Regions from separate parts of the Homo sapiens genome. Here region 1 is linked to region 2. Evidence: fine-mapped expression QTL. A gene starts in region 2. The other region holds a variant in brackets. All regions are shown on one strand. Distances are from middle to middle.

Region 1 (5,323 bases), 26 kb before region 2:
ATCAACTGCATTGTGGACTGAATTTGAATCCCAATTCAAATAACTTAAAAAAAGAGAGATAATTGGAATTCAAGTATTATTTAGATATTCAAACATTATTAGGGAATTATGTTGATGTTCCTGGTGTGATAGTGACACTGTTTCTTTTTATACATCTGCAGTATCCCAAGGACAATCACGACCTTTCATATTAAGTCATTTAAAATAAGAAGCTAGGCAAAATAGACTTCCACTTGGATTCTGTAGATACCTGAGATTTTGTAACTCAAGTTATTAATTCCCTACCATTATCTTTACCAATATGGAGGCAACTTGATGGGCAAGAAAATCATTCTTAAAGGAACTAAAACATGTAGAGTCTCAGCACACTTTTGATACTAACAAATTTTAACAAGACAGGTAACTCATCAATGTGTGTATTTTTTAGTTCTCAGTCTAATATTTCAGTTTCTGTAATTTTCCTTCATAGGACTTTAATAGTAGCTGAGATATATTTATGAGAGCCTATGAAATGTGTTGAGAAAAAATTTTAAAAGATGTATTTAATAAAAAAAAAAATTCCCTAGAGTAAAACATAACCTCTTCAACCACATTCATCACTAATGATGCTGTTATGTACTTACTGTCAAGTTGTCTCTCAGTAATTGCATTATTAGCGTGCTGTCTTTGTATGACTCTTCACTTAATGTATCAAGTTCAGCAATGGCTTCATCAAAAGCCTACGATTTAAAAATAGTACATTACATTTCAGTGCTCAAATAATAAAGACTGCTAAATTTCTACGTAACAGGTAAAATACATACTGTCTTTGCAAGAGAGCAGGCTTTCTCTGGGGAGTTCAGAATCTCATAATAGAACACAGAGAAGTTAAGGGCCAGACCCAGTCTGATAGGATGTGTTGGTTGCATTTCCTTTTTGCTGATTTCAAAAGCTTCTTGGTATGCTTGTTGTGACTGATCGACAATCCCTGGATAAGACACACCAAAACGTACTGAGATAAAGTGTGCATTATATCTTCACCCCTCAAACCAAACCTTTAATATCTCACATATCCTTTGAAATACTAACCTGTAACAGCTTAATATTTGTTAATTGAACAAGGTCCTTTTTTTTTTTTAAAGGGAGCTTTCTCCTGGTACACACTAGCCATTGATCAATGTCAAGATAAAACAACTTTATAATCTCATTATTGTTATGTTTTTAAAAAATTGACGAGTTTTGACATCCCAGACCCAAGCAATCCTCCCACCTCAGCCTCCAGATTAGCTGGGACCAAAGGCTTGCACCACCATGCCCAGCTAATTTTCAAAATATTTTTTGTAGAGAGAGATGTTGCTCAGGCTGGTCACTTTTCTTAAAATCTTGAAAAAACATCCCTGTACACAATATTGGCTTTTCAGAAAGCATTTATTTTAGAATAGCAGTATGAGGCAGTAGATGTGTATTCTCAGAACACAAAGAGCACTGCTACTCCTTATTCGGCACTCTAAGCAATTCAAAACAAGACATTATGTACGCTTCAGAGACTCTTCCTCACTATGTTATCTTATACAAGTTCAACCAACAGGTTTAAAAACAGCATACCTTTCTTGTCATCACCAGCGGCAACCTCAGCCAAGTAACGGTAGTAATCTCCTTTCATTTTCAAATAGAAGACTTTGCTCTCTGCTTGTGAAGCATTGGGGATCAAGAACTTTTCCAAAAGAGACTTAAGAAGAAAAGAAACAGACATAGTGAGAATAAAACATTTACAAAACTGAAAGAACTTGCATTTCTTAAAGAACAAACTATAGCCTAAGTTATAAAACTTAAACACCCAGTCACTGTCAATACAATTGTGAATGCAGCTGGCACATGAATTTGTGGTTTAAAGCAGAATGCTTTGGGCAGCAATATTTTAAGTTTGAAGTTAGTGTTCAGTTTATTATTTGAGGACAATAAAATTGAACATTGGTCCCTGACAATGTTATCTATTTACATGCTGACTTCATGAATGTGGGGCATGACCGTTCACATTTAGGAACATTTTCTAATGAGCTGGCAAGCTTTCCATCTGAAGTTTCATGTGGTCATGACATGAAAATAGAAAGAACATACGGGATGAACCTTTTGGGACTCTGGAGAAATGACTAAAGCAGAAACCAATAATGTAAGACACTTAAGGAGTCCATGCCAGAGAAGGAGGAACAAAATAAACTTCATTTATAACAACACAATTCAAGCAAACCTCACAACAGATAAAAAAACCGTTCAAAAGTTTTATTTTTCCTAAAGACAGTGGTAGGAGACTTACAGATTTTAAAGAGCAGACCTTTAATCTCATTGAAGTCATTTTCGGCTAGTAAGATACACGATTACAGATCATCCCAGACAACAGATAAAATTAAAACATCATCCTATAAAATTCTGTCTAAAACTACTATTACAATCTGAGTCATTTGATTAGGATTTTAAAAATTACACTCTTTAACTGATTTTAAAGCAAAAAGATTAGATCATTGTGTTGGGGATGGGAAGAAGTCTCAATAAATGTGTAATTTTTTTCTTTCCAGTTAAGGGGGAGAAAAATAATTCTAGTAGTAGAATTAGGTAAACATTAAAGCAAAAAAACCCCAACCACCCATTCTCACTACCCCACTTCCTTTAAAGTTCAAGTACACTCTGAGAATCAAGGTGAAGTCAATTTTCAGCTGAGCTAAATTCCAAATCCATTCTTACAAAAAAAAAGTATTAGTTTATATAGCACCTACTTATATATAAAATATAAATTTGAAAAATGCTTTTAAATGGTAACTCCAACTTTTTGTTTACCCATTATGTTCCAATGCTGGGTAGGTGAACAGTTTTAACCCAACTTCTTCCCCCA[AT/A]TTTTTTTTTTTTTTTTTTTACAACTCAAGCTACAGATAACCCAGATGAAGTGGCAGTAGGGCCAGATTGCACTGTGCTATATAAAGAGGTTAAAGGTGAGAAAAGTCAACCTGAAATGATGTTTCCTGCAATTATTAACCGATATTTAAAAATACTGGCCTGAGGCCGGGCACAGTGGCTCATGCCAGTAATCCCAGCACTCTGGGAGGCTAGGGTGGCAGGATCACTTGAGGTGAGCCTCGTCAACATGGTGAAACCCTGTCTCTACTAAAAATACAAAAATTAGCCAGGCGTGGTGACGGGCGCCTGTAATCCCAGCTGAGGCAGGAGAACTGCTTGAGCCCGAGAGATAGAGGCTGCAGTGAGCCGAGGTTGCACCACTGCACTGCAGCCTGGATGACAGAGCAAGACTCCATCTCAAAATAAATAAAAATAAAATAAAATTACTGGCCGGAAATCAGAAGAACGTTTTGGTTAGGATAGCAACCTCTGTCTTACACCACATTCATACTTTCATATTCAAAGTTCTCTTAGCTGCAAAAGTGTTTTGTCCTTTGAATACAATGCTTTTTACCACCTATGGTTGCTCTGTGGAGATCTGCCTCAAACAGTGGAAGACACTTGCATTTAAAATAGTCAAGTGAGTCTTTCCACTTAAAAACAATGGTTTTAAGAAACAAATGACCAGGATTTTCAAAAGTTTCATTGTTACACAAATTGTATTATTCATTCAACTATGGGAGATGGTATAAACATAAGTGGCTTTGGGGTGAGTCTGGTTTTGAATTACAGCACTATACACCGTGTGAACTACTTAATCTCAATGATTCAGTTATCTCACCTGTAAGGCAGAGACCTCTAAGATTATTGAGAAAAAATACAGGTAAGCACTTAGGAGTAAGCACTTAAAATTTTATTTCTATTATCACAATAACACCAGACACCATGCTAGAAGCTGGAAGCACAATATTCTGGTAATTCATAATCTAGCTGTAGAGACAAGGCTATCATTCCTTCCATTACAATACACTTTACAAGAATTGCAGGGCACGGTGGCTCACTCCTGTAATCCCAACACTTTGGGAGGCTGAGGTGGGAGGATCACTTCTTGAGTCCAGGAGTTTGAGACCACCCCGGTGAACATGAGATCCTGCCTCTACAAAAAAATTTAAAAGTTAACCAGGTGTGGTGGCACACCCCTATAGTCCCAGCTACTTGGAAGGCTGAGACAGGAGGATCATCTGAGTCCAGGAGTTTGAGGCTGCAGTGATCTGTAATTGAATTATACCACTGTACTCTAGGACAGGGTGACAGTGAGGCTGTCTCAAAAAGAGTAACACTGCCTAATCACGTCTTTCACTTTTCGGTAACTTTAACCCCCTCTATGTATGCAGAGATGAAGGCCATAAACACATGCAGTTACTTAAGAGTGAACCAGTCACTTAAGATGTAAAATTTTAAAGCTGTACTAAAAACTTAAATTTTTTTAGGAAAGGTGTTGATAAATGCTACTAAAAGTAGTAATCTATCTTTTGTAGGTAGTAACTTTCTACCTGGGTAATATGCTGAACTAAGCAGTTCCCTGGGAATTAAAATGGCAGTTAAGCACTTCTTTCCCCAAAGCTGAACACTGAATTAACCATAAAACAACTTTAAAGCTATTTGTTAGAACCCACAAGTAACAGGAGGGCTGGGTAAACAGCAGTCAGGCTGCTTACTGGCCTAATGATAGACCAAAAGAACCAAACAAGTGGCAAGTGTTTCTGGTGAGATGCTGACCATAAGAGTTGAGAAAGGTGGCTGGGCATGGTGGCTCACGCCTGTAATCCCAACACTTTGGGAGGCTGAGGTGGGCGGATCACGAGGTCAGGAGATCGAGGCCATCCTGGCTAACAAGGTGAAACCCCGGTCTCTACTACAAAAAGAAAAAATTAGCCAGGTGTGGTGGCGGGCGCCTGTAGTCCCAGCTACTCGGGAGACTGAGGCAGGAGAACAGTGTGAACCCGGGAGGCGGAGCTTGCAGTGAGCTGAGATAGTGCCACTGCACTCCAGCCTGGGCAACAGAGTGAGACTCCGTCTCAAAAAAAAAGAGTTGAGAAAGGCATAAATGGCCTACTTCTAATAAATCGTCCAATGACATAAGCTAATTAAGATTTAAAAACCCAAAACCAAGCAAGACTGGATTAAAGATTAAATTTAAAGGGGCTAACACTGTAGCTCAAAAAAAGCTAACTATAAAAGAACATTTTCTGCCAGGTGTGGTGGTTCATGCCTATAATCCCAGCACTTTGGGAGGCTGAGGCGGGTGGATCACCTGAGGTCAGGAGTTCGAGACCAGCCTGGCCAACACGGTAAAACCTCGTCTCTACCAAAAATACAAAAAATTAGCCAGGCGTGGTGGCACACGCCTGGAATCCCAGGTACTCAGGAGGCTGAGGCAGGAGAATCACTTGAA
Region 2 (5,371 bases):
GGATGTTCTGCAGGGGGGAAAAAAGGAGTATTTAAAATTTTTCCCATCAAAATAAACAGACTCAAAATTATACCTGTGGTAAATGAGTTTTTTAAACCTGAAACCTAACTGCCTGTGAAAGACTGTTCACATGAGGAATTAAAATGCAGCCTCACAAAAGGATAGTCAAAAAAGGGAAAAAAATTTAGCATACTCAGCATCAGAGGTAAACTTACAGCCATTAACACATCAGTGTAGCAAAACTTAAAATTTGTTCAGAAGACCCAAATTTCACATGTCAAAATTACTTCCAAAAGCTGCCTCAAAAACTACCCCTAATCTTACCTGATCAAAATCTCAACTCATTTCCAATACCACTAAGTGATCCAAAATTAAGCAGCTTTTCTTCCTTTAGTAAAAGCATTGTTTACAGAGAACATCTGGATTTCTATCATATTTCCAGAATCATAATTCATATCAGTTTAATGTAACTCACGTCTTTTTACTTTCATAATACTCTTGTCAAGAGTGATTACATTTTAGCTTTAGTGTTACCCCTACCCCAAACCTACTAGATCTCTGCAACAACTGCCAGCCAATAATAGCATAACAATTTGGGGGGGAATGACCAACTGTTTGTTTTCAGATATTTTGAGTATAAATCCACCACAAAGGATCAATATCTGACCCTAATGTCTCAACTCTTTATCTTGTTATATGTCCACATGCTTTAAAAATATCCGCAAGTCATGACACTTCAACTCTTACTGTGAGTACTAGAATATATCACATTGGAAGTACTTAATTTATAAGTGTTTCCAATGTCATCGCTCCAGTTGAAATGCAGAAGTGCTGCATTTTGCTTCTAGCCATCATAATGTAATTGGATGTTACCACTCAAGCTGTCCTTTACCATGACTACCCATCTAATTCTCTTTCCCTCGCATTTTAGTTTCCTGGACCTTTTCGATTTACCTCAGCTACATTTTTCTGGAAAGATACCCTTTTGCAAGTTGCCGAACAGCACAAAGATACTAATCCACACAGTGACACCACAGAATAAATGACTTCAGAGGAAAATACACACCCTGAATGAAGTGCACTTTTAAGTTAGAAGGTGAACAGAAGAGTCCACCTTGGCAGCTGGCTCCCGAATATTAATCATCTTTTACCTTCCCAGGGAAATCCCACAATATTTTTTTAACCAAATGAGAGAACAGGTCGCCACATTTTAAACAAATAATTAACCACTTTGGATGCAAGGTACTGGCTCAATACGTAAACTATTTAACCTTTATGACGGCATTATTTTCGTCAGGTCTCTAAATTACTGATTTTTCCCTTAGGATCTCAGAAACGCTCTCTGGTTATTTCTGCTTCTAACAAAAAATGATTTAAGCCAGTACAAAGGATTCTCTCCCCAATCACTTCGGTACAAGAGGAAGTGGATAAGGTTTCTCACACAGTAACGAGTGCTCCAAGGCCTCGCCTCTACACTGCGGGCAGGACTCACCGCACCCATTTAACCCTTACCTGACTTGAGACGTCGGTTACTGTGAAACGAAAACGGGCAGACCCGGACTTTAAAGTGCAAATTCTCCGGTCCGCGTATCGCAACCACCCCCCTCCAGGCTCCGCCCAAGTCGGAGCCACGGCTCAAGTCCCCGACTCTCCTCCTTTGTCATGGCGGATCTGTGTCAGGGAGCCCAACCTACTGCAGAGTGTTAATTCCTCCCCCCGACCGGAGCCAGAGGGAGGAGCAGCCCGCGCCCCCGCCCAAGCCGTGGGGGGGGGGGAGAGATGGGGAGCGAAGCCGCCCGACCCCGGGGCAGAGACGCCACAGCAGCCCGCAGAAGCGGAACCACTACCAGCCCCGCCGCGGACACACCCCGCTCTCCCACCCAGCGCCTTCCCCGCCACCGATCAGCGCCGGTGACCGTGTACAGCGTCTCTAAGGGACCGACAGCTGCAGGTGGGGGAGGGGACGAGAGCCACACCCAGCCGAGCGGGCCACCAGCGGCTATGCTCAGGCTCACCCGCCCCCAAAGCAGGATATGCGTCCCCAAACCGAGCGCAGGGACCCTCCAGTTCTAGTCCATCAAGCACGGGAGCCGACTGCGGGCTCACCACCCTGTTCTCTACCCCGACCTGGACTTGCAGCCCCCGTCCACACCTCCCCCGCCCGTTCACAAGGAGCAAAAAAAGTCAGACCCATCCCCCACCCCCACCAGGAAAATTCAAGTCCTTCCTCCCACCGCGGAGCCCAGGAAATTCAGCTCTAGGTCCCAGGCGAGCCCCACCCCAAAACCTCACCCCGCAGTGGACTCCCCTCCCGCCGGCGCGCAGCCTCGCCCCGGTCTACCTGGCGGGCGCCGCCGCGCCAGGCCTGGGCTCCGGCCCGCTCTCGGCCAGGCCTTTCCCTCGCGCTTGGGTCCCCGAGGCCCCCGGCCCCTCCCCGCCGCGCCACCGCCTCCCGGGGTGGGGGAGGGCCGGGTCCCGCCGCCGCAGCGCCCAGCGCGGAGGCTGCGCGAGGGGGAGGGAAAGGAGGGGGCGGCCGAGGGAGAGGGGAGGGGGCGGCCTCACCTGCGCCACTGCGATGCCCGCCGCCGCCGCCGCCGAGTCATTATCTCGGGCGGAAGCGAGAAGGGCGGCGAGGGAGGGGGTGGAAGCCCGCAGAGACAAGGGTGGGGATGGATCGCGGCCGGCGGCGCCCCGGCCATGCCTCGTCCACCTTCGGGAGCCGGCGACAGGGAGATCCCCAGGGATCTCGCGTGTGGGCGCCCTACCCACCCCCGGGGGCAGGACGGGGGAGCGAGCACCGATCGGCGCCGGGGCGTCGATGCGGAAGCAAGGAGCCGGAGGCGGCCGCTAGCCGCCCTCCCGAGCCCAGCGGAAGAGGAGCCGCCGCCCGTGTCCGCTGAGGAGACTCCGCCTCAGCCCGGCGCCGCCACCGCGGGGCGAGTGGGGATGAGGGGACGGAGCGAGGACGGCTCCCACGCGTTCGGAAGGCTGGCCTGGGACAGGAAGCGAGGCGCGGCGGCGGCCGGGTTCCTCACCTGTGTCCGGAGTGGGTGGTGGCGGCGGACGGACGGGCTCAGCAGTCTCTGGGCGGCGGCGGCGGCAGCAGCGGCGAGGCTGAGACTCTGTCCCTGGATCTCGCTGCTCACAGGCTACAGCCGCTCCGCAGACACGGGGTTTCCTCCAATCACCAGCCCCGGCAGCAGGGGCACCACACGCACGATGACGTCAAACGCTGCTATGGCAACCGTTGATTGGTGCCCACAGCGATCGGGGCCCCGCGTAACCGCCGCTCCCCGGCGCTCGTCCTGCCCGCCCGCGCTGGAGGGCGAGCGGAGGCGCGCGCGTCCTCGCCCGCAGCCGCCACTCCTCCCACCCCGCTCGGCTTCCAGCTCCTCTACGCTTGTCCCGAGTGCACCTAGGGCAGGAGGCTGCTTTTTTCCTTTTCCTCCCCAACGCAAATCCCCCACTCCTCGCCTTCCCTTTGGGTCCCCAACGCCCTCTCTCTCCCTCTCCCCTGCAGCCTCTGCCGGCCCACTCTTCCTCTCAGCCGGCGGGAAGGCGTTCTCTCCCTACCCCCACCTTAGCTTTCGCTCAGCCCGTCTGCGCTTGCCCCAGTCACTCCCTCTGGAAGGGGCTCCCGTTCAGCAACATCCGGGACCTTTCACATCCCCCCACCCCTCCCCGAGGCCCGGCCCGCCCCACCCTCCGTGCTTCGCGGTAGTAACTGCCCCAGGGCCGTCCCCGGGCAGGATGACAAGGGTGGCTCGGCGGCTCCGGCATTGTGATCAGGACTTGCGGGGCGGGGGCCCCGGGGCGGGGGCAGGGCGCGGTCGCACGGCAAGGGAGGGTTGTGTGTGGTGCGCTGCCCCCCGCCCCGCCCGCCGCTCCCCTTCCCCGGCTGGGCCGACCGGGGCGCGCGGCCCCTCCCGGCCTCCCTCCCGCCGCCGCGGCTTTACCTGCTGGCTCGGGGGAAGCGGTCCTAGACCTTTTATGGCTCGGAAACGGGAGTGAGGCGTCCAGCCCCTGAGTGTGGCTGAGTGATGGGGAGGCGTTCCAATCGAGAGCGCGGGATCTGCGCTCGGTGACTGCGCGAGGGGACAATGGGTGGGCGCCGAGGTGGGGGCGAGGTGGGCCGGGCCGGGCGGAGCCGGCAGGAGGTGAGGCCTGGAAGGAGGCGCGGCCGCTTTAGGGAAGCCAGAGTTCCGAGGGGAAAGGACAGCCTTCTCGGGCGGAGGGCTGGAGCTGGTCCTGGCAGCCTTGACCCGGAGACAGGCAGTCAGGCGTGACCGCACGGACCCGTTTCTCGTAGGCTAGGTTTTCCTACCCAAATAAAGCTTTCACGTGAAGACCTCATACTGCACATGACGATCATTACCTTTTTATCTCCTAGAAGCAAGGTTTGAGGGACGTCGTAGTCCCCAGGGTTCCAGCTGGCGGTGGGAGTGGGCCACAGGCCGGGTGATGAGCCGGGACGGGAGCCCGGAAGAAGGGGAAGGAGAAAGGCGGAAATTGCAGGTGCCTGAACCGGTAGGGCCTCCGCCCAGTTGACTTCAGGAAGTTCAGAGAGAAACATTCACAGTGTGAATGATCTCTGCCCCTTCCCTCTTTAAATGTGTTCGGGCTAAGAAAAGATTAGTGCTTGGATGACCTGCAAAACCACTTGCAACAGCCATGGAGAGTGTACGGTTAGCAATGAGAGAGCTTGGAACTCTTCATTTTACTCTTGTGTAAACTCCCCATTGATTCTTCCAACGTATCTTTATTGAGCTGACCAGAGCCTCCGTTTAGCCTCATGTTCTCTACAGAATTTAGTTTCTCAGTAGTAGACACGAAATGATTGAGTCCTCGCTCTTCCAGTACATTGTCTTTCCTACATAATACAGTGGACCACAAGGCTGCTCTACAAATTACTTTTTGCCTGACATGACAGCTGGCATTTAGATAGTACAGACCAGAAAGAGGGTTTCCAGTGACCAGTTATATTTTAGTGGGTTTTTTTGTTGTTGCTTTTCACAAGTTGCCAAATCACAGACTCATGGTAGGTTAAATGGATAAACAAATTGGAGTTTTATTTCTGAGATGTTAGGGTCAACTAGCTTTGACTCCCAAGTAAATTCTTTTAGGGCGTGACTCACTTAAAATGAGTAATATTTCAAAAGCTATTTTTTTTACAGTTTTTTCGTAGGCACCAGAAATTTGACAGAGGATACTAAGTTAAACGTTTTTTTAAAATGGAAATTGATGTTTCTTTAATGTCTCAAATATATGTCTATGTAGAGTATATGCCTTTTGTTTTAGAGGAAGTTAAGGGGTTTTTCTGTATAAATATGGATTTACTTCAGGAAACAGCTAAGTTAGGCTTTTGCCTCAT

Alleles and levels. Alleles are on the strand shown, and positions count from the first base shown. SD is a standard deviation of normalised expression in the study named.
For the expression in iPS cells of the gene that starts at base 3,127 in region 2, allele AT in region 1 goes with a higher level than allele A (large effect, 0.91 SD a copy in PhLiPS).

What was found. PIP is the estimated chance that this variant, and not a neighbour inherited with it, causes the effect.
Region 1: its variant is fine-mapped to the expression of YWHAZ in iPS cells (PhLiPS, PIP 0.95).

What each region holds. Positions count from the first base shown.
Region 1 is chr8:100,923,332-100,928,654 of GRCh38, forward strand. It overlaps YWHAZ (tyrosine 3-monooxygenase/tryptophan 5-monooxygenase activation protein zeta), which reads right to left. Exons shown (of 6, transcript NM_145690.3): 3 at 1,585-1,708; 4 at 804-967; 5 at 624-719. Among named protein-coding and RNA genes, the nearest start is that of YWHAZ, 26 kb to the right of the region's middle. The variant AT/A (reference allele first, on the strand shown) is at 2,867.
Region 2 is chr8:100,948,894-100,954,264 of GRCh38, forward strand. YWHAZ (tyrosine 3-monooxygenase/tryptophan 5-monooxygenase activation protein zeta) reads right to left here and starts at 3,127. Exons shown (of 6, transcript NM_145690.3): 1 at 3,036-3,127; 2 at 1-7. RefSeq lists enhancers at 1,332-1,391, 1,506-2,365, 1,992-2,071, 3,224-4,082, 4,362-4,471 and 1 more and silencers at 1,652-1,871, 2,262-3,031, 3,262-3,521, 3,542-4,221.